Homo sapiens: one gene and its partners. The protein of the gene in region 1 interacts with the protein of each later gene in a pairwise test. Each region holds a gene or a part of one and is shown on either strand. Other genes may lie near its edges.

Region 1 (4,609 bases):
AGCCTGGGTGAGGCACAAAATGAGGATACTTACTAGAATCAATAAGGATGTTAAGCTGCCAACAACTAAATTGATGATTCGATCCTGAAAGAGAAAAGAATTTTTAAGCCATATGACTTGGATCCATGTTACCTTCAGTATAGTACAATGCAAGGCATTTGGATGGTTTACTATAAAGAAACCCAAGATCCAGTCCTCTGAGCTTTACACATAAAACTACCAGACAAAGCAAAGTGTACTGAACCATAAGAGTGGAAAATGTACTTTGGGAAAATGGCCAACTGGGGAAGGTTTCTTGAAGGGACAGAACATTTATACTAGAGTCTTGATTGGGTAGTATCAAATGGGTAAGGGAGGCTTACAAATAATGCATGTGCTGCTGAGGATAGCATAAGCCAAAGGAGAAGGACAGGCACTGCAGGAATGGCCAGGCCAGAGCATTGGTTAAAGGTATCAGGAACCGGACTAGATGTAGAGTACCATGATGTGTCTGGAACTATATTTGTAATACAGCTTAGGTATCCTTGTCTAGTCTAAAAATAGATGCTACTGTTAAAAGGGATGGGTCCTAGAGTGCCAAGGCTTGGCACTTGCAATCTTAAGAGACCATCCAGTCCAGTAGTTTTTCCAAGTTATTTAATAGTGAAGGGCTTTAGTATATAAACAAAATATTGGTTGAATGAAGAACCTACCTACTGAGCTTTCTTGTCATTCCCATCCCACCCCAACCAACAAAGAATGTTTGAAAAACTGATCCAATCCTAATTTTACAGGTTAAACTAAATTTAGGCCCAGTGTGGTTAAATTATTTTCTAAGAGTCATAACAAGTTAGAAGCAATTTTGAAACCAGAGATTCCTAAATCCAGGTCACTGGTTAGAAGTAGTTTCAGGTACTACTAAAAAGGTAAAGTATGATAGTGACATGCAGTCTTATTTCTGAGAAGTCAAAGCTGAGTCTTTAACGAATCAGTCGTCTTAAATGTTGTTTTGATAATGGTCTGAGCAGAGAATGGCAGGATATGGAACATGCCGCCAATAAACAAAACCTCAGAGATGGGAAGGACACAGGAACAATCACAGAGCAGCAACCGAATTCTCATTTCCAAGTAGTCGCCTTTTAAGGATAAGAACCCACAGAAGTTAAGAGTCAGGCAAAATTGGGAGGGAAAGAGTAAGAAAGCCAAGTATTGGATGTGTGTGATCTAACCAAGGACAAATCACAACTCTCCAGACCAAGGCCACTGCAACTGAAAGGTTACAGAACAAAAGATACTGGACTCCAGCCACACCCTAACTCCAGAGGACTCAGAAGAGATCTTACCACGACCTCAGCTAGAGAAGCCTACACAGCACACAGGAGCCTGAACTTAGGACCACTTTGTTAGGAAAGGGACCCAGGGACAAGTCACCACTCACTTTAACTTCTTCCCACATGGGACAACATAAAATGTGTAGAGAGACAAAATCCATGGGAGCCCCACTATTTTTGAGAAGCAAGAATATCTGCTGCTCTCTGAGCGCCAGGGATTTCCAAAATGAAGCACTGCATACCTCATAACAGCTCCCACCAATAGAAGTCAAGCCAATATATCACTAATTGCCAAATGACACACAGCAAGTTGCCTACCAGGATCAAAGTAGGAGAAAAATAATGGTAAAAGGATATTAACTATGCCAAGCACATTCACCAATCCTCTCTTTAAAAATTCTAGGATGAAATGGTAATATGACTGTTTCACAGGTAGCAAAACAGGCTCAGGGAAACTGAGAACTTTCCCAAGATCTCAATACCATTAAGTGATAAAGACAAGATTCAGTGCCAGGCCTCCTTTCCCTATTTATGCTTCTCACCCAAAGAACAACCTAGAGTGCTAGTGCTGGTCTAGACAAAGATGTCAAGTGGCAGATGACACCTCAAAAAGCCTATTAGCAAAGTACTACACTGTGCTTACCTTTCAAGAATGATTTCCTCATGGGTGACTTTGTTCCACATTTTTGGATTTCTCCATATAACTGATTTTAATCATCCTGATGAAAATATATCTAAACTTTAATGAATACTTTCCTGCCTACCTTTTAGATAGTCACTGAACAGAATTCCAACAGATTTTCATGAATATCAGTTATTGTTATAATGTAGTGGTCCCCTCTGGGATTCCCAAGATGGGATGAACTATTTCGGACATGGCAGAAGTGTTTCTCAGAATATTTTCTTTCTCCAAGCCAAGGCCTTCTATCAACCATGAATTCAGGTATGCAGAGTTAACTTCAGAAGCCCTCCTACTTCTAATGCTCTCTGTTTTAAACTTGCTACTCAAAGTGTAGTCTATGAACCAGCACATCGGCCTCACCTGAGAGAACTGCAAGAAATGCAGAATCTTAGGCCTCACTGAGACCAACTGAATCAGAATCTGCGTTTTAACAGGATCTGGTAATTTATGTGCACATTTAAAATGGAGAGGCTGTGCTCTAAAGTTTAGTCTAAAATAAGCCATTTTTAAATATTAAGTTCAAATCACAGGGTACAGCTCCTTCCCTGGGCCTAGAGATTATTTTTCAGGGTTTTAGCAGCTCTTCTAGCTCCCAATCTCCAAAGAGGATAATAGAGAATAATTAAATAGCTAGTTAATTAACACTTCAAAGGACAGTTTGGGGAATAATATGCTCCAAATTGGAGCTAGAGTACATGGAGAAAAGTGAGTAATACATTTAAACTTTGCTGTTTATGGAGTAAATTGAAACTCATTATTTCTACTTCTACAGCTAGTCTCTATTAACTCAATTATTTCTCACAGAAACTAGCTCTGTCTCCTCCCCAGTTTTATTTTCACTCTAGTTCTACCTACCATAACTTGTCTCTCCTACCAGAATTTTAAACCTTGTACTGTGGCTTATTTTCACTCCACAAGGAAGCTTGACAGGACAAAGGATGGCAATTAGCCTGGATCCTTGCCTGCTGAGAGGACAGGATACAGATTTAGGATTTCCTTCCCAGAGACAAAATATTCTGCAACAGGTTTAGAGATAGTCTGAATTCATATATACATGAACATAAAGACAGACGTTGTGTGCATACATACATGTATATATATAGTTGAGATTTCACCTATATCATCTTGTAAGTCATATATTTATGCATTTAAACATTATCTACTATAATTCAGATGCAAATACAAAAGTGAATAAAAACATCTCTACCTTCCAGAAGTTTACACTATCCAGAGTTCAGGAGGGCACTAAGAAGACAGAAAGTGAGCTATCTTGGACAGTCAAGGAGAGACTACCAGAGAAGTCAAAACCCTGAGGAAGACTAGCAGATGAAAAGGAAAGGAAAGATGGTTCATGAAAGGAATTCCACAAAGACCCATGGGAGAACAAAAGCATTGCTGTTACAAAAAATCAATGGGACAAATGGAGATTGTTGACCAAGTTTCATGAGAGCTGAGAGGAAAAGAGCTGGAATGCAATGCACAGTGAAGAGCCTGGGCCTGACGGATTCATGTCTTTGTCTTCCTTTAGAATGAGGAAGGAGAAAAAGATGGAGATATATGCAACTGGTTTGTATCTGGAATGGTGGAAAGCAAGTAAGGAGTGTTATCTCTATTTACCAATGGGTAACTAGGTTCCAGAAGACTGACTTGCCAAAGGTCACACGGCTAGGTAATGGCAAAAAATCTCCTATCCAATGCTGTTCACAAAAGACAAGTGTAATGAACAGTTCAAAAGGTCTAACAGTCCTAAAACTAATAAATACAGACCTTAACACGGTCTAGAAACCAAGGTTCTCATCTCATTCTGCCACTAGCTAGCTTCGTAACCTCAAAAGGATTCCTTAACCCATTTGACTCTATCAAATGAGAAGACTGGGCTAAATGATACCTGGTCCCTTTCAGTTCTTACACTTTATGGTTCTGAATCACCAGACTGCACTTGGGCCAGAGAAGGACTAATCCCCTAGTGATTAAAAGCCAGAGAACCCCTATACTTGCCTGGTCAGTCATTAGCCAGCATCTGCTAGAGAAACTAAAACTCAAATGATCAGGTGGTAACAATGGCCCTGGGAGGAAACTGGCAATAACATCCCAAATAACCAAAAGCTAGCTCTGCCCTCAGCTCCTCAGCTCCCTGGAAATATCCTGGTTCTAAACAGTTTGGAATGCTTACAAGCGACATTGTATTCAGCCTTCCATTTCCATGGCAATGTTTTGCCTACTTCCAAAATGAATTTCAAGGGCATGTGCTACTATAATAAAACCCTAACCTAACTAACCAACAATAAAAAGACCAAGACAAAATTTCGAAAAGGCTTTGGGGAATGGTGGAATGGGGGGGAAAAAAAGCTAAAGAATCTACAAAGGCCAGGCATGGTGGCTCACACCTGTAATCCCAGCACTTTGGGAGGCCAAGGTGGGAGGATCACTTGAGTTCAGGGATTCAAGACTAACCTGAGAAAAATACTGAGACCTTGTATCTACAAAAAAAATATAAAAATTATCTGGGTTTGATGACATGTGCCTGTAGTCTCAGCTACTTGGGAGGCTGAGGTGGGAGGATCACTTGAGTCCAGGAGGTCAAGAGTGCAGTGAGCAAGGATCACGCCACTGCACT
Region 2 (3,977 bases), on another chromosome or scaffold:
AGGAACAATGCTGGGGGGATGGGGAAGTAAGACTTTGTTTCTGAAGACAGATGATGGGAAGCTGGCTGGCTGGTTCCCTTTGGGAGGGGGGATGTGGGGGAGAAGGCATATATAGGAGGTCTTTCTTCCTCTGGTTCTGTTGGTTTCCAAGTAACATCAGAAATTCCTAGAATATCCCCTCCCAATGTGACTATCCTAAGAAATTGCTTCCCAAGTCCCAGTGATACACCTGTATGCTTAAAGGCTAATGAGACCCACTTTTTTGTCTGCCCAGAAGATAAGTAGTATAGTCAGGTCTCATACTTTTATGCTGATTGTTTTCATGCTTTTCAAGTTTTTATTAATGCCTGTGGCTGTACTCCTTATGAGTGTAGGAGAGATTTACTGTGTAAGAGAGATTTACTGTGGTGAACCCAGCTTTTTTTATACCTAGAATACTTTGGAGACTTGTAAGCCTACCATTATCTACTAAAGAATACTAATTGGGGCCAGAGGTCCGTAAAGAATGGGGATTACGTACAGATGAAAATTAGGTATTTTCAGCTCTAGTTGAGGGTACAGGGATAGGGGACAATGCAACTAGGCTGTGGTTGGGGCATCCATTCCTTGCAGTGATGGTACTCAGCCCTTGTCCCTGAGCTTGCTGCTTCCCCCCTAGGTATGCGGTGCTTTGTGGTCAGCTGGCTGAGCATGAGAGCATCCAGAGGCGCATCCAGAGTGGCTTTAGCTTCAAGGTGAGGACAGGCTTTTCCTCCTTCCTTGTGCTGGCCTATCCCAGATTCCCCACTCCTTTCCAGCTCCCTGCCAAAAACTTTTCTACAGCCTCAGTGACTTGCCTTTCTTCTTTTTTTTTGAGACAGAGTCTCACTCTATCGCCCAAGCTGGAGTGCAGTGGTGTGATCTTGGCTCACTGCAACCTCCTGGGTTCAAGCGATTCTCCTGCCTCAGCCTCCCAAGTAGCTGGGATTACAGGCATGTACCACCATGCCCGGCTAATTTTTGTATCTTTAGCACAGATGGGGTTTCACCATGTTGGCCAGGACTGGTTTCGAACTCCTGACCTCAGGTGATCCACCTGCCTCAGCTTCCCAAAGTGCAGGGATTACAGGCATGAGCCACTGCATCCGGCCCTTGCCTCTCTTTTAGCAACTCTGGTGTCTGATGTTAGTTTATATTTACATTTTCCCCTTAGGAGCATGTGGACAAAGCCATTGCTCTCCAGCCAGAAAACCCCATGGCTCACTTTCTTCTTGGCAGGTGGTGCTATCAGGTAAGCTGCGTTTCAGTGCTTGACATAATGGTCCTAAATGCCTTCTGACACCGATTTCCTTGCCAGGAAGAACAAGATCCTCAGCCTTCTCTGGCTCAGGTGCCCTTTCTTCTGAATGCTCGTATTATTGGTGGTTCGACCCAGCCCCGTTTGACCCTATTTTCAATATATCCCCAAAGATTTAAAGAAAAAAAACCTTTTAAAACCTCTTATACACACCTTGATCTTTTTGTGGCAGGTCTCTCACCTGAGCTGGCTAGAAAAAAAAACTGCTACAGCCTTGCTTGAAAGCCCTCTCAGTGCCACTGTGGAAGATGCCCTCCAGAGCTTCCTAAAGGTATGAGAGGGGCAGGTGGCAGGCAAAAACACCAGGGTAACCTTGTTTTTTCCTAAGGACATTATTGAGACCCTTAATGGGAGGGGTTTTCCTAGTCGGGGGCAATTTTGTGTTTGCCTGTTCTATGGGAAAACCAGAATCACTTGCACAGCTTATCAAAAATATAGGTTTCTTCAGACCCACTGAATCAGCCACATGGTTGGGGACTAGAAATCTAGTTTAATAAACTTCAGCCTGATTAGAATATAGGAACCTCTTACTGAAATATCTTTGTCCCTTTTCCCAGGCTGAAGAACTACAGCCAGGATTTTCCAAAGCAGGAAGGGTATATATTTCCAAGGTAAACTCATTTGTCTACTTCAACATAGATCTGGGAACTCCTGAAAGTACACAGTATCAGGTTTCACTGTTGTCTCTTTTCAGTGCTACAGAGAACTAGGGAAAAACTCTGAAGCTAGATGGTGGATGAAGTTGGCCCTGGAGCTGCCAGATGTCACGAAGGAGGTAAGGCTTTTTAATACTGCCTGTTGGGCAGATCACCTGAAGTCGGGAGTTCGAGACAGCCTGACCAACATGGAGAAACCCCATCTCTACTAAAATTACAAAATTAGTTGGGCCTAGTGGCGCACGCCTATAATTCCAGCTACTCGGGAAGCTGAGGCTGGAGAATCGCTTGAATCCGGGAGGTGGAGGTTGCAGTGAGCTCAGATCGTGCCATTGCACTCCAGCCTCGGCAACAAGAGCAAAACTCCATCTCAAAAAAAAACCAAACAAAACTGCCTGTCATCACTGAATCATCATGTGACATTTTTAGAAAATAATCTTTCCTAGAGGTCTTATTTCCCTAGTAAAAAAGAGTCTACCTCTAGGGGAAGAGACAGATTTAATAGGCTCCAGGCTATCCTGGGGAAGTAGGAAAAAGACTGTAGCAGAGCTCAGGAAGGAAGCAAAGGGCCCCTCTTCTTAGGTTCCACTGGTTTGGGAAAATGCTGGTTTAAATTTTGAGCCCTAGATTTGTTCTTTGTCTCCCTAGGATTTGGCTATCCAGAAGGACCTGGAAGAACTGGAAGTCATTTTACGAGACTAACCACGTTTCACTGGCCTTCATGACTTGATGCCACTATTTAAGGTGGGGGGGCGGGGAGGCTTTTTTCCTTAGACCTTGCTGAGATCAGGAAACCACACAAATCTGTCTCCTGGGTCTGACTGCTACCCACTACCACTCCCCATTAGTTAATTTATTCTAACCTCTAACCTAATCTAGAATTGGGGCAGTACTCATGGCTTCCGTTTCTGTTGTTCTCTCCCTTGAGTAATCTCTTAAAAAAATCAAGATTCACACCTGCCCCAGGATTACACATGGGTAGAGCCTGCAAGACCTGAGACCTTCCAATTGCTGGTGAGGTGGATGAACTTCAAAGCTATAGGAACAAAGCACATAACTTGTCACTTTAATCTTTTTCACTGACTAATAGGACTCAGTACATATAGTCTTAAGATCATACCTTACCTACCAAGGTAAAAAGAGGGATCAGAGTGGCCCACAGACATTGCTTTCTTATCACCTATCATGTGAATTCTACCTGTATTCCTGGGCTGGACCACTTGATAACTTCCAGTGTCCTGGCAGCTTTTGGAATGACAGCAGTGGTATGGGGTTTATGATGCTATAAAACAATGTCTGAAAAGTTGCCTAGAATATATTTTGTTACAAACTTGAAATAAACCAAATTTGATGTTATCAGCTCTTTATTCTTACTTGACACCTCCATAATTGTTTCTACCTACAGAGGCTGTTGCAGGCAGGTTATGGTTAATGCTCTTTACAGTATATAAAATACAGGTATCGAGCTTATTTTTAGCCTAAACAAGGCCTATTGCAACTAAGCAGGTACTCCCTGCCTTTCTCATGTTCATTTTTAGGGCCACGAGCACAAACCCCTAAATCCACCTAGAAGAAAATTTAAGACTGAGATGCATAGGCCGAGCGTGGTAGCTCATGCTTGTTGCTTGTAATCCTAGCACTCTGGGAGGCCAAGGCGGGTGGATCACTTGAGGCCAAGGGTTTGAGACCAGCCTGGCCAACATGGTGAAACCCCCATCTCTACTAAAAATACAGACAGAAAAAATTAGCTCGGTATGGTGGCGCACGCCTGTAATCTCAGCTACTAGAGAGGCTACAGCAAGAGAATCACTTGAGCCTGGGAGGCAGGGGTTGCAGTGAGCTGAGATCACACCCTTGCGCTCTAGCCTGGGCAACAAGAGCAAACCTCTGTCTCAAAAAAAAGATTGAGATGCTTTCATATAAGAACCAACCCCTTAATCTAGAATGTCACTGTGTCTTTATTATACCAACCCAGATTTTTTTTT
Region 3 (3,314 bases), on another chromosome or scaffold:
GGAGTGCAGTAGTGCCATGATGTTGGCTCACTGCCACCTCAACTTCCCAGGTTCAAGTGATTCTCCTGCCTCAGCCTCCCAAGTAGCTGGGATTACAGGCATGTGCCACCATGCATGGCTAATTTTTGTATTTTTAGTAGAGATGGAGTTTTACCATGTTGGCCAGGCTGGTCTCAAACTCCTGACCTCAGGTGATCCACTTGTGTCAGCCTGGGATTATAGGCATGAGCCACTGTGCCTGACTGGTGCCCACCCCCCACCTCCTTTTTTTTTTTAAGACAGGCTCTCACCGTGATCATGGCTCACTGCAGCCTACACCTCCCTAGCTCAGATGATCCTCCCACCGTGGCCTCATGATGCCCAGCTAATTTTCAAAATTTTTTTTGTAGAGATGGGGTTTCACCATGTTGCCCAGGCTGGTCAAATGGTGTCCTCATAAAAGGAAATTTGGGCTAGGCATGGTAGTTCACACCTGTAGTCTCAGCTACTTGGGAGGCTGAGGTGGGAGGACCACTTGAGCCTAGGAGTTTGAGATCAGCTTGGGCAACATAGTGAGACCCCATCTCTACAAAAAATTGAAAAAATATTGCCGGACATGGTGGTTCACACCTGTAATCCTGGCACTTTGGGAGGCAGAGGCGGGTAGATCACCTGAGGTCGGGAGTTCGCGACCAGCTTGACCAACATGGAGAAACCCCGTCTCTACTAAAAATACAAAATTAGCTGAGCATGGTGGCACATGCCTGTGATCCCACCTACCCGGGAGGCTGAGGCAGGAGAATTGCTTTAACCCAGGAGGCAGAGGTTGTGGTGAGCCAAGATCGTGCCATTGCACTCCAGCCTGGGCAACAAGAGTGAAACTCCGTCTCAAAAAAAAAAAACAAAACAAAAATTAGGTATAATGGCATGTGCCTGTTGTCCCAGTTACTTGGAAGGTTGAGGTGGGAGGATCACTTGAGCCCAGGTGTTTGAGACCAGCCTGGGCAACATAGTGAGAGTCCATTGCTATAAAAAAAAATAAATATAGCCATGTGTGGTAGTGCACACCTGTAGTCCCAGCTACTTAGGAGGCTGAGGCAGGAGGATCGCTGGAGCCAGGGAGGTAGAGGCTGCAGTGAACCATGATCATACCACTGCACTCCAGCCTGACACAGAGCGAGGCCCTGTCTCAAAAAAAAAAAAAAAAAAAGGAAATTTGGACACACAGAGAGACACCAGGGACAGGGACGCTAGTTCATAGAGACCATGTGAGGACACTGAGAAGGTGGCCACCTGCAAGCTACGGACAGGGGCCTCAGGAGAAGTCAAACCTGCTGACACCTTGATCTTGGACTCCAGAACTGTGAGAAAATGAACTTCGGTGGTTTAAGCCTAGTCTGTGGCATTCTGTTATGGCAGCTCGAGTTAAGACCAGGGGACTGTGGGGCCAGTGATAGGGTCTGTGTAGTGAGTTATGGGGTCTGGCGGGGGGTCAGTGATAGGGGTTTGTGAGGTCAGAGGTGGGAGGTCTTTAGATGCTGATGGGGGTCTGGAATAAGTGAATGATGGTGGGATCTGTGGGGTCAGTCATAGCGCATCTCTGGGGTTAGTAATTAAGGATCTCTCAGTGTTAGAGTCAAGATCTTTTATTTCCTGATTTTAAAAATCGTCACCATCATAGACCTCCTGGCTTCTCTTGTATCTGTGTTCTAATGGCTCCCAGCAGTGCCTTCACACAGCCCCTTTATTCCCCTTCTTGTGCCTGCCCATGAGCCTGAGTGTGACAGATCAATTAGCTTTGTCCCTCCAAACTGTGGGAGCAGGACTAGACTCTTCTGGCAGGCAGAGAGCTCCTCCTCGGCCAGTGTTCGAGCCTGGTCCACCACTCCTCAGTTCTTCTTGCTCTTGGCTTTTGTGGCCTTGGCATCCAGCGTGCTCTGGGCATGAGTGAGGTGCTTCACAGCATCAAGCACAAGGACTCCAGGCAGCACCAGCCACAGGGCATTCATGAAGACAAAGTAAAACCAGAAGTAGAGAGGGTGGCCCAGCTCTCCGTGCTGGAATCCGTCGCGGTGCTCTGTCAGGAAGTAGAGCACATCCCCATAGATCTGGCCTGTGGGTGGCAGGAGGGGAAGGAGAAGCCCCAGTGAGGAAGGGGACACTTTCGCCAATTCTCTATTCCAAAGCACTTTCCAAGTCATCATTCAAGGTCTCAGAGCTAAGTATTCTGAAATCACAGAGCTGAAAATCTGAGAAATCAGAAAAGTGAGATTCCAGACACCAGAGAGCTGAGAATTTCAGAACTCAGGAGAGCTCACACCTTCAGATTTAAGGAAGTTCAAAATCCTCAAATCCAAGACAGCTTAGGATTCTGGGACTAAAGATAACTCATATCGCTAGAACTAAAGAAAGCTAACAATTTAATAACACAAGATGACTGAGGCCGGGCACAGTGGCTCACACCTGTAATCCCAGTACTTCGGGAGGCCAAGCCAGGAGGACTGTTTGAGCTCAGGAGCTTGAGACCAGCCTGGGCAACATGGCGAAACCCCATCTCTACTAAAAATACAAAAGTTAGCCAGGCACGGTGGCACATGCCTGTAGTCCCAGCTACTCAGGAGACTGAGGCAGGAAGATCGCTTGAGTCTGGGAGGTGGAGGTTGCAGTGAGCCGAGATCACACCATAGCACTCTGGCCTGGGTGACAGAGCCAGACCCTGTTTTAAAAAAAATATGACAGAATCTTACATGAAGGGATCTCAGAGCCCTGATCCTGGAGGTTCCAGGGGCTTCTTGCCACCCTGGGCCACCTCATGTAACCTTCACAGGAGACTTTGTGATGGAGAAGGAGGAGGAGGAAGAAAAATGAACCCTCCCCACCTGAGAGTGCAGGCTCAGAGAAGGGCATGACCTTTCCAGAGCCTCAGGGGGTTTGTCATTCAGTCTGACTTACCCCTGGAAGGGCACCGTTGAGAGATCCCACCCACAGGGATACATCTGTGTCTGTGGATCCCCCATCAACCCCTCTAGTGCCCAGTGCCCCTCTAGTGCCCTTTCCTTACCCACAGAGACCACAAGCTGTAGAATGAAGCGGAGGGGATGCTGGCGGAGAAAGGCGATCACCACCCACAGGCTGAGTGGTCCCCACAGGCAAGCTGTGATGGTTTCCATGCACACTGTGAAGTTGTCACCCCTGCAGGAGAAAGCATGAGGGGACACTGGTATCGGTGTGCTCTTCCTACAGGTTAGCCCATTAGTGCTCCCCAACTCACCACCCCCCGAAAACCAATGCCAGTCTCCATTGACAGAGGCAAACACTTACAGGATGTATCGGCT
Region 4 (4,289 bases), on another chromosome or scaffold:
CCATCTATCCCTGGTTACATTGATTTGATGGCCTTCGGATAACTAATGCTAGCTGATTAGTAAAGCTGTACCTGGTGACTACACCTGGTTCCTGATGGCATTATCTCACATTTGTTGGTCTTTTCCTAAGCTGGACGATTCTACTGTTGCCAGGGAATTGGCCATCACAGACTCTGAGCACTCAGACGCTGAAGTCTCCTGTACAGACAATGGCACATTCAATCTTTCAAGGGGCCAAACACCTCTAACGGAAGGCTCTGAAGGTGAGGGGAGCCTTTGACCTCAGTTGATAATGGCTCTGACTGTTGCCTCTTAGCTTCCCTGAACAGAGGGGATACTGGTGCTTGCCCCTCTCCTGTTTTCTGAGCTATGGATCAGGCGGCAGAGCAGCCTGAGTGCTGTGGCTACAGCCAGGATGGCACTGCTGCCCTTCTTGAAGACTTTAGTCCCTTAGTAGCCTCAGGCACTAGCCTCACAGGGGACATAGAAGAGAGGGGGAATTGTGTAGAGATCACAGCCACCTATAAGTGGAGGGGAAAGGTATACCAGTCCCATGGGTTTATTTCGCCCTGAGAAAGCCAGGGTGGGAAAAATCTGGTCATGTGGGGCTGGGGCACAGGAGGGCCAGGTAGGTGCCATGACTCAGACACTTCTGTATTCCACCAGACCTAGATGGTCACAGTGATCCAGAGGAATCCTTTGCCAGAGACCTTCCAGACTTCCCTTCCATTAATATGGATCCTGCTGGCCTGGATGATGAGGACGACACTAGCATTGGCATGCCCAGCTTGATGTACCGTTCTCCGCCAGGGGCTGAGGAGCCCCAGGCCCCACCTGCCAGCCGGGACGAGGCTGCGCTGCCGGAGCTCCTGCTTGGTGCTCTTCCTGTAGGATCCAACCTCACCAGCAACCTTGCCAGCCTGGTCTCCCAGGGTATGATTCAGCTGGCCTTGTCAGGGGCCTCCCAACCAGGCCCTTCTGGAGCACCTGCCCAGAGAGCAACGAGAGGCTTCCTCCGGTCCCCCAGTTCAGACCTGGACACTGATGCTGAGGGGGATGACTTTGAACTTCTGGACCAGTCGGAGCTGAGTCAGCTGGACCCTGCCAGTTCTAGGAGCCACTGAGGCAGAGACTCCTTTTGGGAGTCACTGTGGTTTAGGTTTTTTTCTCCCCATCCCACTTAAGGTGATGGGGCAAGGGAAGAACTCAGCTCCCCTCCCCTGAATTATATTTGTATGCTGGGTGGCCTGGCTGATGCTCAGAGGCCTCCTTAGAGAGGACACTCACTCCCCTCCCACCAGCTGGATGCCCATTTCTGAGCTCAGTCACTGAAGTGAGAGTGTGCTCCCCCAAGGGAGGCTTCTCTCCATCAGGATGGTACTTTGGGGGAACAAAATAGTCAGGGATATTGGTTCCCCTTTGAGGAGGTGCTGCTGTTTGCTTTTAGGTATGAGTGCTCAGGGGCCCTCACTGAAAGAGCCCATGCCTGCCTTCCTCCTTTCATCGCCTCTCTAGAGCCCCCAAAGTCAGGCAGCAGCTGGAGTAGTTACATTGTCATCATCTTTTTTTTTGAGACAGTTTCGCTCTGTTGCCCAGGCTGGAGTGCAGTGGTGTGATCTTGGCTTTCTGCAACGTCTGCCTTCCAGGTTGAAGAGGTTCTCCTGCCTCAGCCTCCTTAGTAGTGGGATTACAGGTGCCCGCTACTATGCCCGGCTAATTTTTCTTTTGGTATTTTTAGTAGAAATGGGGTTTCACCATGTTGGCCAGGCTGGTCTCAAACTCCTGACCTCAAGTGAGCTGACTGCCTTGGCCTCCCAGAGTGCTGGGATTAGTCGTCATCTTTTGTTAAACCAGGATTTGATTTTTTTCTTTTCTTTTCTTTTCTTTTTTTTTTTTTTGAGACAGAGTCTCTCTCTGTTGCCCAGGCTGGAGTGCAGTGGCACAATCTCGGCTCACTGCAGCCTCCGCCTGCCGGGTCAAGCGATTCTCCTACCTCAGCCTCCTCAGTAGCTGAGATTACAGGCATGCACCACCATGCCCGGCTAATTTTTTTGTGTTTTTAGTAGAGATGGGGTTTCACCGTGCTGGCCAGGCTGGTCTAGAACTCCTGACTGCAAATGATCAGCCCGCCTCAGCCACCCAAAGTGTTGGGATTACAGGTGTGAGCCACTGTGCCCAGCGTGATTTTTTTTTTTTTTTAAAGCAAACTTGTCCTTTGGTTTTGCAGAACAGGCCTGCTCCCTCTCATCTAGCCCATCATTTCTTGGGGCCTGAACCCCAGTGGTCCAAAGTATTGCTTGTGAAATTTAAAAAATGTGAATATGATGTGGGGATGGGCCTCTTCTACATTACCTTGGCCCAGGGGGATCAGCTGGCTGGGAGGATTAGTGAGCACCTCTGTATTTTGAGGTCTGAGTCTTCTGGAGCTGTGTAGTTAATCTTCGGTTTCTGATAACCCCTGGGTCCATCTGGCCATCAGCCTCAGCAGTGAGCAAAGCAATACCATACTCATTTCTATGTTCCTGTTCCTTCCTCTGCTCCTCCTTTGGAGAAGCAATAATTCATGGGGGATGATACAGTAGCACTTTACAAATGGCTCCATGTCATTCATCCCAGGGGCCATAATCTCTTGCACCACCTATTCTTACTTCCTGTTCAGCTCCTTTACAGCTTTTATTTTCAACTGCTTCCCAACTTGGTGGGGCCTCCTTTAAGGATGAGCCAATAGTAAGAATGTGGCTGTAATCAGCAGAGACCCCTCTGAGGGGTATCTGTTCTGCAGCCCCTAGTGAAATCATGTGATGTGAGACAGAAACCTAAACATGGTACTTGATTCTAAACCTGTGCCAGTCTATAGCCTCTGCCTCCCCAAGCAGAGCTCAAGCCAAACGCTTCTGTCCTCTTTCCTTCTGCATTAACCCTTTGCTGATCCTCAGGGGCCACTCCCCCAACACCCCTGTACTTGGGTGAGGGATGTTGGACAGAGCCTGTTTTCATGTACTGCAGGTGGGGGTGTGCTGACATGTTTGCTCTTGGTTGATGGAGAAGGTACAGAGGCCAGGGAGTGAAAATGGTTGACAGAAGAGGGAAGAGTTAGGTGTCTCATAGTCACTCATAGTGGGGTGGTCAGGGGTAATGGCATCTCCCCACTTTAGGCTTCTCAAACAGACTTTTGACACCTCTCAAGTTCAGAGCTCTGATGTGGAAAGACAGGAGGTGTGGGGAAGGAGGGGGATTTCGTGTGTTTGCATGAGTGTGCGCTTCAGGCCTTGGGAGTTGGCAAGAGGGAGGGAAGGAAGGAGAGCAAAATCTTCGGAAGGTGTTTCTTGTACCTGAGGGATCCTGCCCTGAATCTCCATAGTCTCCACTGTGAACTGAGGAGGGGAGGGGTGTGCTGGGGAATAAATCTTGTATGAGAACAATCTTTAAGAGACTGATGCTGAATGGTGTCCTACCCTTGATAGGTCTTCTCTTGTAAATCTGAGTTCTGATTAATTTGAAGTGATAGCCTTAAAAGAGGAAGCCCAGGTATGAGGGACCCACCAGCCCACCCCTATTTTTACTTCGTGATGGCCAGAACATCACCATAGTATGAGGCTACTTTCCTTCTTGTGAGAGCCCCACCATCAGTATAACTGGCACTCTTGGCTAGTATTTAGCCTGTATTTCCTTCATTTCTAATTTCTTTTTTTTTCCTGAGACGGAGTCTTGGTCTGTCGCCCAGGCTGGAGTGCAGTGGTGCGATCTCTCACTGCAAGCTCCGCCTCCCGGGTTCACGCCATTCTCCTGCCTCAGCCTCCTGAGTAGCTTGGACTACAGGCGCCCACCAGCACGCCTGGCTAATTTTTTGTATTTTTAGTAGAGATGGGGTTTCACAGTGTTAGCCAGGATGGTCTCGATCTCCTGACCTCGTGATCCGCCCGCCCTGGCCTCCCAAAGTGCTGGGATTGCAGGCGTGAGCCACCGCGCTCGGCCCTTTCATTTCTAATTCTTAATATTGTCTCCTAAACGTGCAGAGACAAGCACACGTTTTAAAGGCTAAGGAGGTTGTAGGTAGCAGAAGGCTTTAAAAAGTAGCACCTTACTCCTTCACTGGATGGTCTGAGCTGCAGGGACAGCTGCTCTTTGGCCTTCAGCTCACCTCAGAAACTAGAAATATTTATTTCAGGCTCTGTCCCATTGGCCACTGTGGTCAGGGGTGGAAAGCACCTGCCAGGTGTTGCCCTGAGATTGTCTGGGCTAACAAACTTTTCCACAAGCTTTGTGGTTGAACAGTAGCCCCCTCCTAA
Region 5 (4,016 bases), on another chromosome or scaffold:
TTACAACCTAAGTCAGAAAAGGTTTTCATCTAGTCATATATGTGTGGCAAATACGGAGAAGCCACAGACGGTGAGCCACAGACAATGAGAGCAGCTGTTGGGGTGGGCTCCAGGGTGCTGCTTTCCCTGAGGGCCAGCTGGGTCTGGCCCAGGTTCACTTCCCACCCCGGTGCCCCCGGTACTCGCTGTCTCCAGCCTCAGGTTCTGAAAGGCAGAGACTCCTAGCCTCATTGAAGGATGGTTAGAGAGGCACGGGAGCTATCTAGTGGCAGGCCCACGGTATATGTTTGCTGCTTTCTACAAATACGAGATCAAAGGAAAATAAAGCAGGGGTGGTTCCTGTCAGTGTGGAGCGAGACCCGGGAAAGCATCCTGGTGGCTGTCAGGCCTTGCTCACGGCCCCTTTCTCTTTCAGGGAGAGGATCCTCCACAGTGGTATCCTGCTGCGTGCCCCTCCAGGACAGCACCCAGAGGCCCGAATTGCTGCTGCACAGAGAGCACTCGGCCTCACCCCACGTTTTCCCTAAGTTCTGTCTAGTAATTCCACTTTGGAGAGGGGGGTGTTCCTTGACAGATTTAGAGAGTTGATGTAACTTCCTCGGATCAGTTCTGCTGGCTCCATCCCCTACCTGCTCAGCCCTGCACAAAGTGGCTAAGCACGCCACACTGCCGGCTCCCAAGGCGATGGCCACCTGCCTCTGTCTCGGCCGCTAGTGGCAGGAAGATGGAAATCCCTCACTTTGTCCCTAGATTCATTTTATTTTATTTTTGTTTGTTTATGTTTTTTTAAGGACAGAGCCTTCCTCTCACCCAGGCTGGAGTGTGGCAATCACAGCTCACTGCAGCCTCAGCCTCCTGAAGCTCTGGCATCAGGCGGGAGCCACTGTGCCTGGCCCCATAGACTCATGTTAGCATAAACAAATAGGAAATGTACACAGCTCAGGAAATGGCTACTAGATACTTAAGTCCCCCAAACAGAAATATATTTCCTCTGAAGAAACTGAAAAAAGTGGCCGGGCGCAGTGGCTCATGCCTGTAATCCCAACACTCTGGGAGGCTGAGGTGGACAGATCACTTGACACCAGGAGTTTCAGACCAGCCTGGCCAACATGGTGAAACCCTGTCCCTACTAAAAATACAAAAAATTAGCTGGGCATGGTTTTGCACGCCTGTAATCCCAGCTACTCAGGAGGCTGAGGCAGAAGAATCACTTGAACCCAGGAGGCGGAGGTTGCAGTGAGCCAAGATTGTGCCACTGCACAGTGTCCAGTCTGGGCAACAGAGCAAGACTCTATCTCAAAAAAAAAAAGAAAATGACAAAGTTATTTTTTCTCTCTTAACTCATAACTGGGGCCAAAGGCAGGGTGACATCACTGGGGATGCCAGTGTGTGGAGGCTGTCCCCTGACCAGTCCTGTCCACAGTCAGGAGGGCAGGGGCTGCAGTGCACAGACCGCATTGTTGTGGCATGGAGGGGGGTCCCACAAAGGCCTTGTCAGCTCATGGGACCACATTGGCAGCCAGCATAGTGACAGAAGCCTCAGATAGGCAGTGAGCCATTGCCAAGACTCCATGGTCCCTTGGTGTCTGTGGCCACCAAACAGATGACAGAACCAGCCCCTCTTGTTCAGCCACCTGGGAGGCTGCTCCCAAGCCTGTTGAGCTTGAGGATCCTTAACCACTCACCAGCTCTCTTCAGTTCCCCTTCAAATGCTGTTTTATCTCAGCGGAACGTACTACGCCCTGTATTTCCTCGCCACGCTCCTGATGATCACGTATAAAAGTAAGTCAGGGACGGGCACAGTGGCTCACGCCTGTAATCCCAACATTTTGGGAGGCTGAGGTGGGCGGATCACTTGAGGTCAGGAGTTTGAGACCAGCCAGGCCAACATGGGGAAACCCCATCTCTACTAAAAACACAAAAAGTAGCCGGGCGTGGTGGTGGGCGCCTGTAGTCCCAGCTACTCGGGAGACTGAGGTGGGAGGATTGCTTGAACCCGGGAGGTGGAGGTTCCAGTGAGCCAAGATTGCGCCACTGAACTCCATCCTGGGTGACAGAGCAAGACCCTGTCTCAAAAAAAAAAAAAAGGAAAAGGCAAGCTGAGGTGGCTGCTGCTGCTGTGCCAGGTTACTTATGTTCCGTCCGCGCCTCTGCTCTTCAGGTCAGGTGTTCAGCTATCCTCACCGCTACCTGGTCCTCGATCTTGCTCTGCTGTTTCTGATGGGGATTCTAGAAGCAGTTCGGTTATACCTGGGTGAGTGGACTGTTAACACCGTGAAGAACCTGTCCTAAGAGTTGCTATCTGTTTCCACAGCCTTTCAAGAGTAATTATTTTATAGTGTGGTTCTCAGAGACATTTTTTATCCAAACTGCTTACCCAGTTGCTTTGCAGGCTCACCTTACAGTGTCATTAAGTATTAATCAAGAAGTTTTGTCCCAGAGACAAATAACACTGGGGGCATCGTTGGGAGAGACTCTGTGTTTGGAAGCATGTCTTGTAGAAGCCACTGGGTAATGGCACTGAGATCAGAAAAGCCCAGCCCACCACCACATCTGGAGCTCCGGAATATTCACCAGCACCCCTTTCCTTCCCCTTGCCCTTAGCTGTCTGAGGAGAGAGCCCTGGAGAGTTCTGCCAGGTCCCAAAAGGCAGCAGAGTCTGGAGGGGTGGGAGCCCCCAGCCTCCCCACTCCAGCTCTAGGGATCCCCAAGTCTGCAACCCCTTCCAGTGACCTACTTTTTTTGAGACGAGGTCTCACTCTGTTGCCCAGGCTGGAGTGCAGTGGTGCAGTCACAGCTCACTGCAGCCTTGACCTCCTGGGCTTGAGCGATCCTCCTGCCTCAGCCCTCCCCTCCTCCCAAGTAGCTGGGATTACAGGCACCTGCCACCACGCCCAGCTAATTTTGTTTTGTTTTGTTTTGTTTTTTTTTGGTAGAGACGAGACAAGGTTTCTTTTTTTTTTTTTTTTTTTTTTGAGACAGAGTCTCGCTCTGTCGCCCAGGCTGGAGTGCAGTGGCGTGAACTTGGCTCACTGCAAGCTCCGCCTCCCGGGTTCACGCCAGTCTCCTGTCTCAGCCTCCCGAGTAACTGGGACTACAGGTGCCCGCCACCACGCCCGGCTCATTTTTGTATTTTTAGTAGAGATGGGGTTTCACCATGTTAGCCAGGATGGTTTCCATCTCCTGACCTCCTGATCCGCCCACCTCGGCCTCCCAAAGTGCTGGGATTACAGGCGTGAGCCACCGCGCCCGGCCGGAGACAGGGTTTCGCTATGTTACCCTGGTTGGTCTTGAACTCTTGGGCTCAAGCAATCTGCCCACCTTGGCCTCCCAAAGTGCCTGGCCTCACTCCCCTTTTTTTAACCACACAATTTGTTCAAGGGTATGTTCTTGTACAAGATTCAAGGGGTGCAGAAGTAAAACATGGAAATTCGCCCTCCCCAGAGCTCACCTCTGTGGCCAGCGGGGTGCAGACTTCCAGCCCTCTGCGTGCTCATGGTCGTAACATGTGCACCTAAACACACGTGTTTGTGAAACATTGTCCTGCCGTGGGGAACGCAATGGGCACTTCCAGGGCGCTGTGCCCCTGCCAGGCTGGAATCTTGGGCCCCTCTTGTTCACATACAGATACACCCCTGATGCCTGATGTCCAGTGAGGAACCAAGGCTGCGGGGAAGGGTGGCCCCCACCCTTCCTCTTGTTATCAGGCCTCAGACACACTAGGAGGATGGAGGCGAGTTCTCTCAGCTGCCCATCCCACTGAGGGGTGCCCGGCCGTCAGTGTCTTGTCTGCACTTACGTCCCAGAACCTCTAGAGCTTGCCCCCCAGGGCGGGCACTGCTGGGAGGGTGCGAGCACCGCTGCGGCACAGAGGCCCGGTTCTTGGCTGATCTTCTGGGGCCTGGGCCTGCCCTGAGGTGGTGGGGACAGGGTGTGGCCTGGCCCTGCTGGGGGCTGCTAGGCCAACGGGACCCTCCCCAAGCGCGCCGCACACTGCAGGGTCTCCAGGCACCTGG
Region 6 (4,609 bases), on another chromosome or scaffold:
CTCTTTTGATCTTTGTTGGTTTAAAGTCTGTTTTATCAGAGACTAGGATTGCAACCCCTGCCTTTTTTGTTTTCCATTTGCTTGGTAGATCTTCCTCCATCCCTTTATTTTGAGCCTATGTGTTTCTCTGCATGTGAGATGGGTTTCCTGAATACAGCACACTGATGGGTCTTGACTCTTTATCCAATTTGCCAGTCTGTGTCTTTTAATTGGAGCATTTAGCCCATTTACATTTAAGGTTAATATTGTGATGTGTGAATTTGATCCTGTCATTATGATGTTAGCTGGTTATTCTGCTCCTTAGTTGATGCACTTTCTTCCTAGCCTCGAGGGTCTTTACAGTTTAGCATGTTTTTGCAGGGGCTGGTACCAATTGTTCCTTTCCATGTTTAGTGCTTCCTTCAGGAGCTCATTTAGGGCAGGCCTGATGGTGACAAAATCTCTCAGCATTTGCTTGTCTGTAAAGTATTTTATTTCTCCTTCATTTATGAAGCTTAGTTTGGCTGGATATGAAATTCGTGGTTGAAAATTCTTTTCTTTAAGAATGTTGAATATTGGCCCCCACTATCTTCTGGCTTGTAGAGTTTCTGCCAAGAGATCAGCTGTTAGTCTGATGGGCTTCCCTTTGTGGGTAACCCGACCGTTTTCTCTGGCTGTGCTTAACATTTTTTCCTTCATTTCAACTTTGGTGAATCTGGCAGTTATGTGTCTTGGAGTTGCTCTTCTCGAGGAGTATCTTTGTGGCGTTCTCTGTATTTCCTGAATTTGAATGTTGGCCTGCCTTGCTAGAACTTCCCTATCCAGGGAAGTTCTCCTGGATAATATCCTGCAGAGTATTTTCCAACTTGGTTCCATCCTCCCCATCACTTTCAGGTACACCAATCAGACGTAGAGTTGGTCTTTTCACATAGTCCCATATTTCTTGGAGGCTTTGTTCGTTTCTTTTTATTCTTTTTTCTCTAAAATTCTCTTGTCACTTCATGTCATTCATTTGATCTTCCATCACTGATACCCTTTCTTCCAGTTGTTCGCATTGGCTACTGAGGCTTGTGCATTCGTCATGTAGTTCTCTTGCCATGGTTTTCAGCTTCATCAGGTCCTTTAAGGACTTCTTTGCATTGGTTATTCTAGTTAGCCATTTGTCTAATTTTTTTTCAAGGTTTTTAACTTCTTTGCCATGGGTTCGAACTTCCTCCTTTAGCTCGGAGTAGTTTGATCGTCTGAAGCCTTCTTCTCTCAACTCGTCAAAGTCATTCTCCTTCCAGCTTTGTTCCGTTGCTGGTGAGGAGCTGCGTTCCTTTGGAGGAGGAGAGGCACTCTGATTTTTAGAGTTTCCAGTTTTTCTGCTCTGTTTTTTCCCCATCTTTGTGGTTTTATCTACCTTTGGTCTTTGATGATGGTGACGTACAGATGGGGTTTTGGTGTGGATGTCCTTTCTGTTTGTTAGCTTTCTTTCTAACAGTCAGGACCCTCAGCTGCAGGTCTATTGGAGTTTGCTGGAGGTCCACTCCAGACCCTGTTTGCCTGGGTTTTTTATAGAGAAAGTTTAGACCTCTGGTCTACATGGTGTGTGTGGGTGTGTTTGCACACATACACACACATATACATGTTAATGTAACAACCTAAACATACTTAATTTCTCACTGTGAAAGAAAGAGTACTTTGTATTTCATACTGCTTCATTTTTGCTAGTACTAATATTTACTGACCCTTTCATTGGTTACATTTGTAACTTTAAATGCTATGCTTAACTCTCTGTTTCCTGTTCCATCACTTTAGACGTGTATATAGATAGCTCTATAGGTAATGACTGGTGGAAATTTTCTTTGTTTGTACTCACACTTAGTAACATTTTGTAAATTTTAACACTGAGACCAGGCACTTTACACCCAGGTGCTAATATCATACCTGATGCTTAATAAGACTCAATTATTTGTTGAAGGTATGTTTGTTTTCCAGGAGCTTCACTGTCATGTTTGAGGAGTCTCATGTTGCTCTTTACAGTTGATGTTATAGCCCAAGTATTTCTTATCCCACATATGTCAAACAGAGTAAATCAGAATTTATGTAAACTGATTTTATTTGTGATAACTTGCTGAAATATTTTCTATTTATTTTCAAACTCCAGTGGACACTCTTGTGAAACACATTTTGCTGTCTGTGGAGTTGAAGTTGTTGCATTGGAGATGACTTAGGCATTCCTTGCAGGGTCACAGTTTTGGTCGCCAAAGTAGAAGTCACTCAGACCCTCAACAATTAATTGAAGAACATCTTAATTGATACATCACTGTGCTAGGAAGTGGTTATGTAGTGGTGAATAAAGCAGTCTTGGTTGCTGCCCTCAGAGAACTTAGTGGGAGAGACAGATGAATAAACCCCACATAAACATATACATCAGCACATAGGAATGCAAATTAAGGTAAATGATTTGAAGGAAAAGAACAAGTTATTTGAGACACAAACTGGAAGTAGGACTCTAAATCTTGAGATTTCATTCATATGGCTAATAATGAATGTTAAGCACCCTTGAATCTTTTGAATTTCTCTAAGCCAGTGGTTCTCAAACTTGAATATGCATCAAAAGCATAAGAAATGTTTGTTAAAAGACAGGTTTCTGGGCCCCATCTTCAAAGTTTGTTATTCACTAGGTCTGGGCTAGCCATGAAGATTTGCATTTCTCGTAACTTCCTAGGTGACTGTGATTCTGCTGATCCAGAGAACCACACTGCAAGAACCACTGATCTCAGATAATGGTTTATATCACATTGGAATCACATTTAGAACCTCAACAAAATATTCATATTTAGTTCTTTTTTGCTGTACATTTTGATTCAGTTATGTCCTAAACATGGGACTTTAAAAAATACTCCCAGGTAATTCTAGTGTGCAGCTAGAGTTGTGGGCTATCAGTTTAGTCTGTGAATATGCATATACATACAGTTTCTTAGAGGGGCATCTAAACAGTGGTAAGAAAGCGGGGAGGACATGGGGAAAAGGCTGGAGCAGGAGGTTTCAGTAAAGAAGTACCTGACCTAAGCCTTTAAAAATTAAGGTTTAAAGTACGGTACCTGAATTTAAGGCTTAAAAGTTATTTGTCAACACCATCAGTTGACACAGAGAGAAGAGAGTATGTCAGACAGAAGAAACAGGCGATGGCACATAAACATGTAGGAGTAGGTTTTGTTTCATGAAGTTTAATCCTAGGTGGTAAATTTGTTGCATATCTGAAATGTAACCATTCTGATATTGTTTGCTATGTCAGAAACAGAATAATAATTTATTTTATAAATAAATATAAACTATGCCATATTAAATAATTTTTATTCATTAATTTGTTCTATTTGATAGGATGAGAAGAAGAAACCGAAAGACTAGGAGATATGGAGTTTTGGACACTAACATAGAAAATATGGAATTGACACCTTTAGAACAGGATGATGAGGATGATGACAACACGTTGTTTGATGCCAATCATCCTCGAAGGTAAGTATTCCAGTAGTTTAATTCCATGAATCAGGAAGCAAGTCCTTGCCAAGTAAACTGAAGAAGTAAAGTAGACTTTCATTTAACAGCTTATATTCCAACACAGTTTCTTCAGTTCTGTTTACTGAAGTTCTTTTTGCTATCTACCCCATAGCTCACATTCACGTTGTTTTGCTCAAATAGATACAAACAATAGAATACCATCTCAAAATATTTTTTTTAATTTATTCTTCTGTTTTTATCTTTTATTTTAAGTTCAGGGGTACAAGTGCAGGGTCGTTACATAGGTAAACTTGTGTCATGTGGTTTTGTCGTACAGATTATTTCATCACCCAGTTATTAAGCCTAGGACCCATTAACTTCTTCATTCTTGCAATATGTATTAACTTGGGTGTGTGTGTGCATGTGTGTTTGTGTGCGTGTGTGTTTGTGTGTGTGTGTGTGAGAGAGAAATACTTATTAAATTTAATTTCCTTTTTGTATTCTGAAGATATTTTCTTTTTAGTTTGGGTTCTAGTGTTTGTAAATAGTGCTGCCTTGCAGAATTGGGGGACTAATTGTTTATGGTCTGATCATGTAGCTGTAATATATATACTGAGATCTATTCTCAGTAAGTGTTAAGACCTTTCCTAAGAGGTTTAGATAAATAAAATGACATGAGTATAGAATAAATGCCAATGTAAATAGAATGGGGAAAAAAGCCAACAAAGATTCAACCTAATAAGGAAAGACATCTTGGAATCCAGAGGGATTACTTGGGTGAAGGAGAATTAGAGTCCAGAGTCAGGTACAAATGCAAAGAAAACAGAAATCTTAGGATTACAGAAAAGAAGATGACTCAACAAAAATTGGACTACTAAGTCCTGTATATCTATATTTATATCTATATATGTCTATCCATCTATCTATCTAAGCTGTTTATATATATGCACACACACAAAGGAACTTTTAGTAATGCTGATAATTTGTTCATTTAATACAAATATGTTCATGAATTATACATTTTAATAGTATTACAGCCTGAATAGGCAAACATGAACAAAACAATTGCATCTGTTCTTCAGGCACTCACTTTCAATTAAAGACGCATATAAGATGAAAGAAAAGGGACAGAAACTGATATTCC
Region 7 (4,609 bases), on another chromosome or scaffold:
CAAGTGATTCTCCTGCCTCAGCCTCCCAAGTAGCTGGGATTATAGGCGAGCGCCACCACACCTGGTTAATTTTTGTATTTTTAGTGGAGATGGCGTTTCACCATGTTAGCCAGGCTAGTCTCAAACTCCTAAGCTCAGGTGATCCACCTGCCTCCACCTCTCAAAGTGCTGGGATTACAGGCGTGAGCCGCACTGCACCAGGCCAGGTCTAGGGAGCCGAACAGAGCAGTGACAGGGTCAGGGTTGAGGCTGCTACCTTGAGATTAGGTTGGAGAGAGCTCCACTGAAGGCTGGAGACCAGTAAGGCATTCAGAGCTGGTGCCAGGTAGGAGCTGACAGGACTGGGCCTCCCTTGGGCTGGTGGGGTGGCCAGGAGAGACCAGAGCAGGAGGTCGCTGCTGCAAGGACCCTCCTGGGCAGGCTCCCCACCTTCCGCTCCCTGGCTCCACACTTTTCCCATGCAGATCTGGGCCCTAAGGCCAGCCTAGGCCCAGTTGGTGATGGGATCTTTGCCATTCATATCAAGTCAATCTGAGGGCCTGGGCCCAGAGGCCAGATGGTTAAAGGTTCAGATTAGGTCCCTTCTTTGTGGTAGAGGGTAATGGGTATTTAATAAATTAATCCAAAGTGCTGTAATCCCAGTACTTTGGGAGGCTGAGGCGGGTGGATCACTTGAGATCAGGAGTTGAGACCAGCCTGGCCAACATGGTAAAACCCCGACTCTACTAAAAATACAAAAATTAGCCGGGTGTGGTGGCATGTGCCTGTAATCCCAGCTACCTGGGAGTCTGAGGCAGGAGAATCACTTGAACCTGGGAGGCGGAGGTTGCACCTGAGCTGAGATCACACCACTGCACTCCAGCCTGGGCAATAGAGTGAGACTGTCTCAAAAACAAACAAACAAACAAACAAAAAAACACTACCACCAACAAAAACACAATAGATGGGGAAACTGAGGCTGGTGCAGGAAGGGTTGGGCTAGGGTATCAACCTAAGGTGAGATGTGGTCCTGGGTCTACTCAGATGGGGAGGTTGGCAGGGTGGGGAGCTTGAAAGGGTCTTGCAGGCAGAGCGTGGGTGACTGACTCCTCAGGTAGGCCTGACCTGCACTCTGCTGCAGACCCTCGGCAGCGCAGCCCACTCTGGTGGCTGGGGCCTTCTTCCTATCTGGCGCCTAAGGATTCTCGGAATGCCTGCTGGGTAAGGGGGCTGTGGGCACAGTGGGTCAAGGCGAGGCTCGGTGCAGCTCACAGCTCAGCTCACAGTGAGGTGAGGTTCCACTGTTGCTCTGGCTTTGCGGGGCGTGGAGGTACTGGGGTCTCCAGGAGCACAAAGCAGGAGACTGCCTTTTCGAGGGGAAGGGAAAGGGGGGAAAAGCAAACAAGGGCTGGAGCTGCTTTCCTAGGGAAATGCCATTTGCATAGACACCCAAGGCAGCTGGAAGTTCTGGACACAGTTCTTCTAATGCCAGCTTAACACGCACACTGCTGGCCGTCTATACAATGTAAAACATCTCATCTGTGAAACCTTATTTTTTCTTTTTGAGTCAGAATCTAGCTCTGCCTCCCAGGTTCAAGCTGGGATTACAGGCGTATGTCACCACGCCTGGCTAATTTTGTATTTTTATTAGAGGCGGGGTTTTACCATGTTGGCCAGGCTGGTCTCAAACTCCTGACCTCAGGTGATCCGCCTGTCTCAGCCTCCCAAAGTGCTGGGATTACAGGCGTGAGCCACCGCACCCGGCCCATCCATCTCCCTTGAATGCTGAAAGCAAGTCGTGAGCACACACTTGTGCCTAGGCCTGTGGGAGGGCGGCGCTGTGGGTCCTGCCTGCCGTCAGTTTTCTCTCTCCTGGGGGTCAGGGAGACTTGGAGCTCTGTCCCTTCTTGGCTTAGTCATGAACCTCTCTAAGCCTCAGTGTCCTGTGTGAACAAACAGCTCAGTGAGATGGTGGGAGGGCGGAGTGTCCTGTCAGCAGGCATGAGGAATTAAAAATTAAGAACACCCAGGGCATTATGGTAAGAAAATAATGAGTTGAAGCATAAAGGTAATGGTTAGTGCCAACTTCCTCCCAGCGTGCCAGGCCCTGTTCAAAGTACATGAAGGAGTTCCTTATTTCGTCTTCCCAATAGCCCAGGGCGGGGCTCTCAGACCATGAAACCCATTTCACAGATGAAGAAATTGACACACTGCTGCTAACTGCCAGAGCCGGGCTTTGAACTAGGCCATTAGATTTCCGTGCCACAGTCATCGTCATTATCGTCATCTACATCTAAGGCTGTTTGGTACCCTGTAGGGTAAATGTGGGGTACATGATGGTGAATCAGGTCGCAGAACCCTTCTCTGCCATCATGATGAAACATGTACTGGCATGGGATTCGCAATGATCATAGTTAGGAAGGCCTTTGGTGGCAAAGAAGAGGAAACTCAGTGAATGGTGATGAGGACACATTTGGGTTCATTTTTCTTACACACAGTTGGAGGAGACAGCTCAGTGACACCCTCAGGCCTGGCCGCTCTCTGCCTCCCCACTCTGCTCTTCTTGGTCAGCCACTGCAGCTCCATCTTTGAAGGAGCTGCCCTGGCTGTGTCTACTCCCTGGCATCCAACCCCTGCCTCCAGCCTCTGAGCCCTCATTGACCAGAACTGGGTTACATGGTTGTCACCAGCTGCAAGGGATGCTGGGAAGCTGAGGGAGAGGAGGGCCATGGTTGGCTTAGATGAATGAGGATGCAGGGCCACCCCGAAGAAAATTGGGGTTCTATCAGCAAGGAGCCAGGTGGAATGGATATCGGAGAGGTAAATAGCATCTGCCAGTAAAGAAGGCTGTAAGACACTGTATGGGGTGATCCCATTTGTGAAGAAGGATGTGTGATGCGCACAAGTGTTTAGGAAAAACACTAGAAGAATTAGCGATGGTCTCTCTGGGAATGGGGATTGTGATACGTTTTTCTCATGCTGCCTCTCTGCCTTTCTTCTCAAGAGAAACAGCAGACACCAAAGAACAGGTGTAGCCTTCTGTTAAGTGGTACAGAGGAATCGCCCTGCAGCCTGGCCTCTGTCCCCTGTGCTGACAGCAGGTGCCTGGGTTTTCTGCTTTGACAGGTTCTTGAGGGCTGGTGTCCGAGGAGAACTTCTAATATTTATTTATACTCTGATTTTGTTTCACAAAGAAGAAAAAGGCTGGGCGTGGTGGCTCATGTCTGTCGTCCCAGCACTTTGGGAGGCCGAGGTGGGGTGGATCACTTTGAGGTCAGGAGTTCAAGACCAGCCTGGCCAACATGATGAAACCCCCGTCTTTACTAAAAATACAAAATAATTAGCCAGGCATAGCTCATGCCTGTAGTCCCAGCTACTCGGGAGGCTGAGGCAGGAGAATTGCTTGAACCCAGGAGGCAGAGGTTGCAGTGAGCCAAGATTGTGCCACTGCCCTCCAGCCTCCAGCAAGACTCAGTATCCAAAAACAAAGAAAGAAAGAAAGGGCCCTTATGAATCATCTTCAAGTTCCTCCCTTCCAAGAACAGAGATGCTAGGCGACTTGCCCAGAGGCACACAGCCAGCATGTAGCAGGATTCATGCCTGTGGGAGCTGGGGTTGGGGGATATTGACGGCTTTAGCGGATCAAAAGAGCTGGTGAGTAGGGCTATACAATCTGGGGGTCATCCTGTGAGAGAGCCCCCAGACTGCTCAGTTCTTAGGGGTCCAGTCATATGCTGTCTTTTTGCCCCAGAGGAGAAATGTCTGAAGTAAGACCCCTCTCCAGAGACATCTTGATGGAGACCCTCCTGTATGAGCAGCTCCTGGAACCCCCGACCATGGAGGTTCTTGGCATGACTGACTCTGAAGAGGACCTGGACCCTATGGAGGACTTCGATTCTTTGGAATGCATGGAGGGCAGGTAGGTCCCCATGGCCTGCCCTACCCCCTGCCTGATAGTGACTTCAGGGGTGGGCTGGATGAGCAGACATTCTATGAGCGGGGGAGCGCCTGCAGATGCCTCCCAGGCAGGGCCTCCGAGAGGAAGATTTCCCGGATGTGGGCATGGAGGCTTCTGCCCTGGGAGCGGCTTCACTTTGCTGCCCCACCCTCCCCTGATACCAGCTCACAGACCCCTGGACAGCCAGCATGTTCACAGTCTCAAGATGGACCTGGGGCCCCTGGCTGTCAAAATGGCACAGTGTTTGGGCCTCAGGGAGCTAGACAGGCCCTTAGCGACCTGCTGAGGACATCAGGGCCTCTTGAAGGAGGTGACTCTGTTGCCAGAAAGGGGACCCGATCCAGATCCCAAGAGAGGGTTCTTAGATCTCAAGCAAGAAAGAATTTGGGCCACACGCAGTGGCTCGCGCCTGTAATCCCAGCACTTAGGGAGGCTGAGGCAGGCGGATCACTTGAGGTCAGGAGCTCGAGACCAGCCTGGCCAACATGGCAAAACCCTGTCTCTACTAAAAATACAAAAAGTAGCTGGGCCTGGTGGCACATGTCTGTAGTCCCAGCTAGTCGGGAGGCTGAGGCAGGAGAATCTCTTGAACCCAGGAGGCAGAGGTTGCAGTGACCCAAGGTTGCAAAAATGCACTCCAGCCTGGGCAACAGAGCGAGACTCCATCTCAAA

Evidence for each region.
Region 2: the proteins of TMEM243 (region 1) and RMDN3 interact in binary tests that used the Homo sapiens proteins (3 or more experiments, as listed by UniProt).
Region 3: the proteins of TMEM243 (region 1) and EBP interact in binary tests that used the Homo sapiens proteins (3 or more experiments, as listed by UniProt).
Region 4: the proteins of TMEM243 (region 1) and RETREG3 interact in binary tests that used the Homo sapiens proteins (3 or more experiments, as listed by UniProt).
Region 5: the proteins of TMEM243 (region 1) and TMEM80 interact in binary tests that used the Homo sapiens proteins (3 or more experiments, as listed by UniProt).
Region 6: the proteins of TMEM243 (region 1) and FAM174A interact in binary tests that used the Homo sapiens proteins (3 or more experiments, as listed by UniProt).
Region 7: the proteins of TMEM243 (region 1) and BIK interact in binary tests that used the Homo sapiens proteins (3 or more experiments, as listed by UniProt).

What each region holds. Positions count from the first base shown.
Region 1 is NC_000007.14:87,198,974-87,203,582, forward strand, and holds part of TMEM243 (transmembrane protein 243), read right to left. Parts: intron 3,782-4,609; exon of another isoform or gene 3,207-3,781; intron 2,254-3,206; exon of another isoform or gene 85-2,253; coding exon 34-84; exon of another isoform or gene 1-33.
Region 2 is NC_000015.10:40,735,258-40,739,234, reverse strand, and holds the end of RMDN3 (regulator of microtubule dynamics protein 3), read left to right. Parts: intron 1-658; coding exon 659-734; intron 735-1,192; coding exon 1,193-1,270; intron 1,271-1,508; coding exon 1,509-1,607; intron 1,608-1,893; coding exon 1,894-1,947; intron 1,948-2,030; coding exon 2,031-2,111; intron 2,112-2,640; coding exon 2,641-2,694; 3' UTR 2,695-3,348; downstream 3,349-3,977.
Region 3 is NC_000023.11:48,527,012-48,530,325, reverse strand, and holds the end of EBP (3-beta-hydroxysteroid-Delta(8),Delta(7)-isomerase), read right to left. Parts: coding exon 3,301-3,314; intron 3,172-3,300; coding exon 3,041-3,171; intron 2,093-3,040; coding exon 1,869-2,092; 3' UTR 1,610-1,868; downstream 1-1,609. UniProt on the Homo sapiens protein: Isomerase that catalyzes the conversion of Delta(8)-sterols to their corresponding Delta(7)-isomers a catalytic step in the postlanosterol biosynthesis of cholesterol.
Region 4 is NC_000017.11:42,578,648-42,582,936, reverse strand, and holds the end of RETREG3 (reticulophagy regulator 3), read left to right. Parts: intron 1-130; coding exon 131-263; intron 264-666; coding exon 667-1,124; 3' UTR 1,125-3,422; downstream 3,423-4,289. UniProt on the Homo sapiens protein: Endoplasmic reticulum (ER)-anchored autophagy regulator which exists in an inactive state under basal conditions but is activated following cellular stress.
Region 5 is NC_000011.10:698,454-702,469, forward strand, and holds part of TMEM80 (transmembrane protein 80), read left to right. Parts: intron 1-415; coding exon 416-435; intron 436-1,688; coding exon 1,689-1,782; intron 1,783-2,161; coding exon 2,162-2,254; intron 2,255-4,016.
Region 6 is NC_000005.10:100,558,706-100,563,314, forward strand, and holds part of FAM174A (membrane protein FAM174A precursor), read left to right. Parts: intron 1-3,348; coding exon 3,349-3,483; intron 3,484-4,609.
Region 7 is NC_000022.11:43,120,286-43,124,894, forward strand, and holds part of BIK (bcl-2-interacting killer), read left to right. Parts: intron 1-3,730; 5' UTR 3,731-3,737; coding exon 3,738-3,898; intron 3,899-4,609.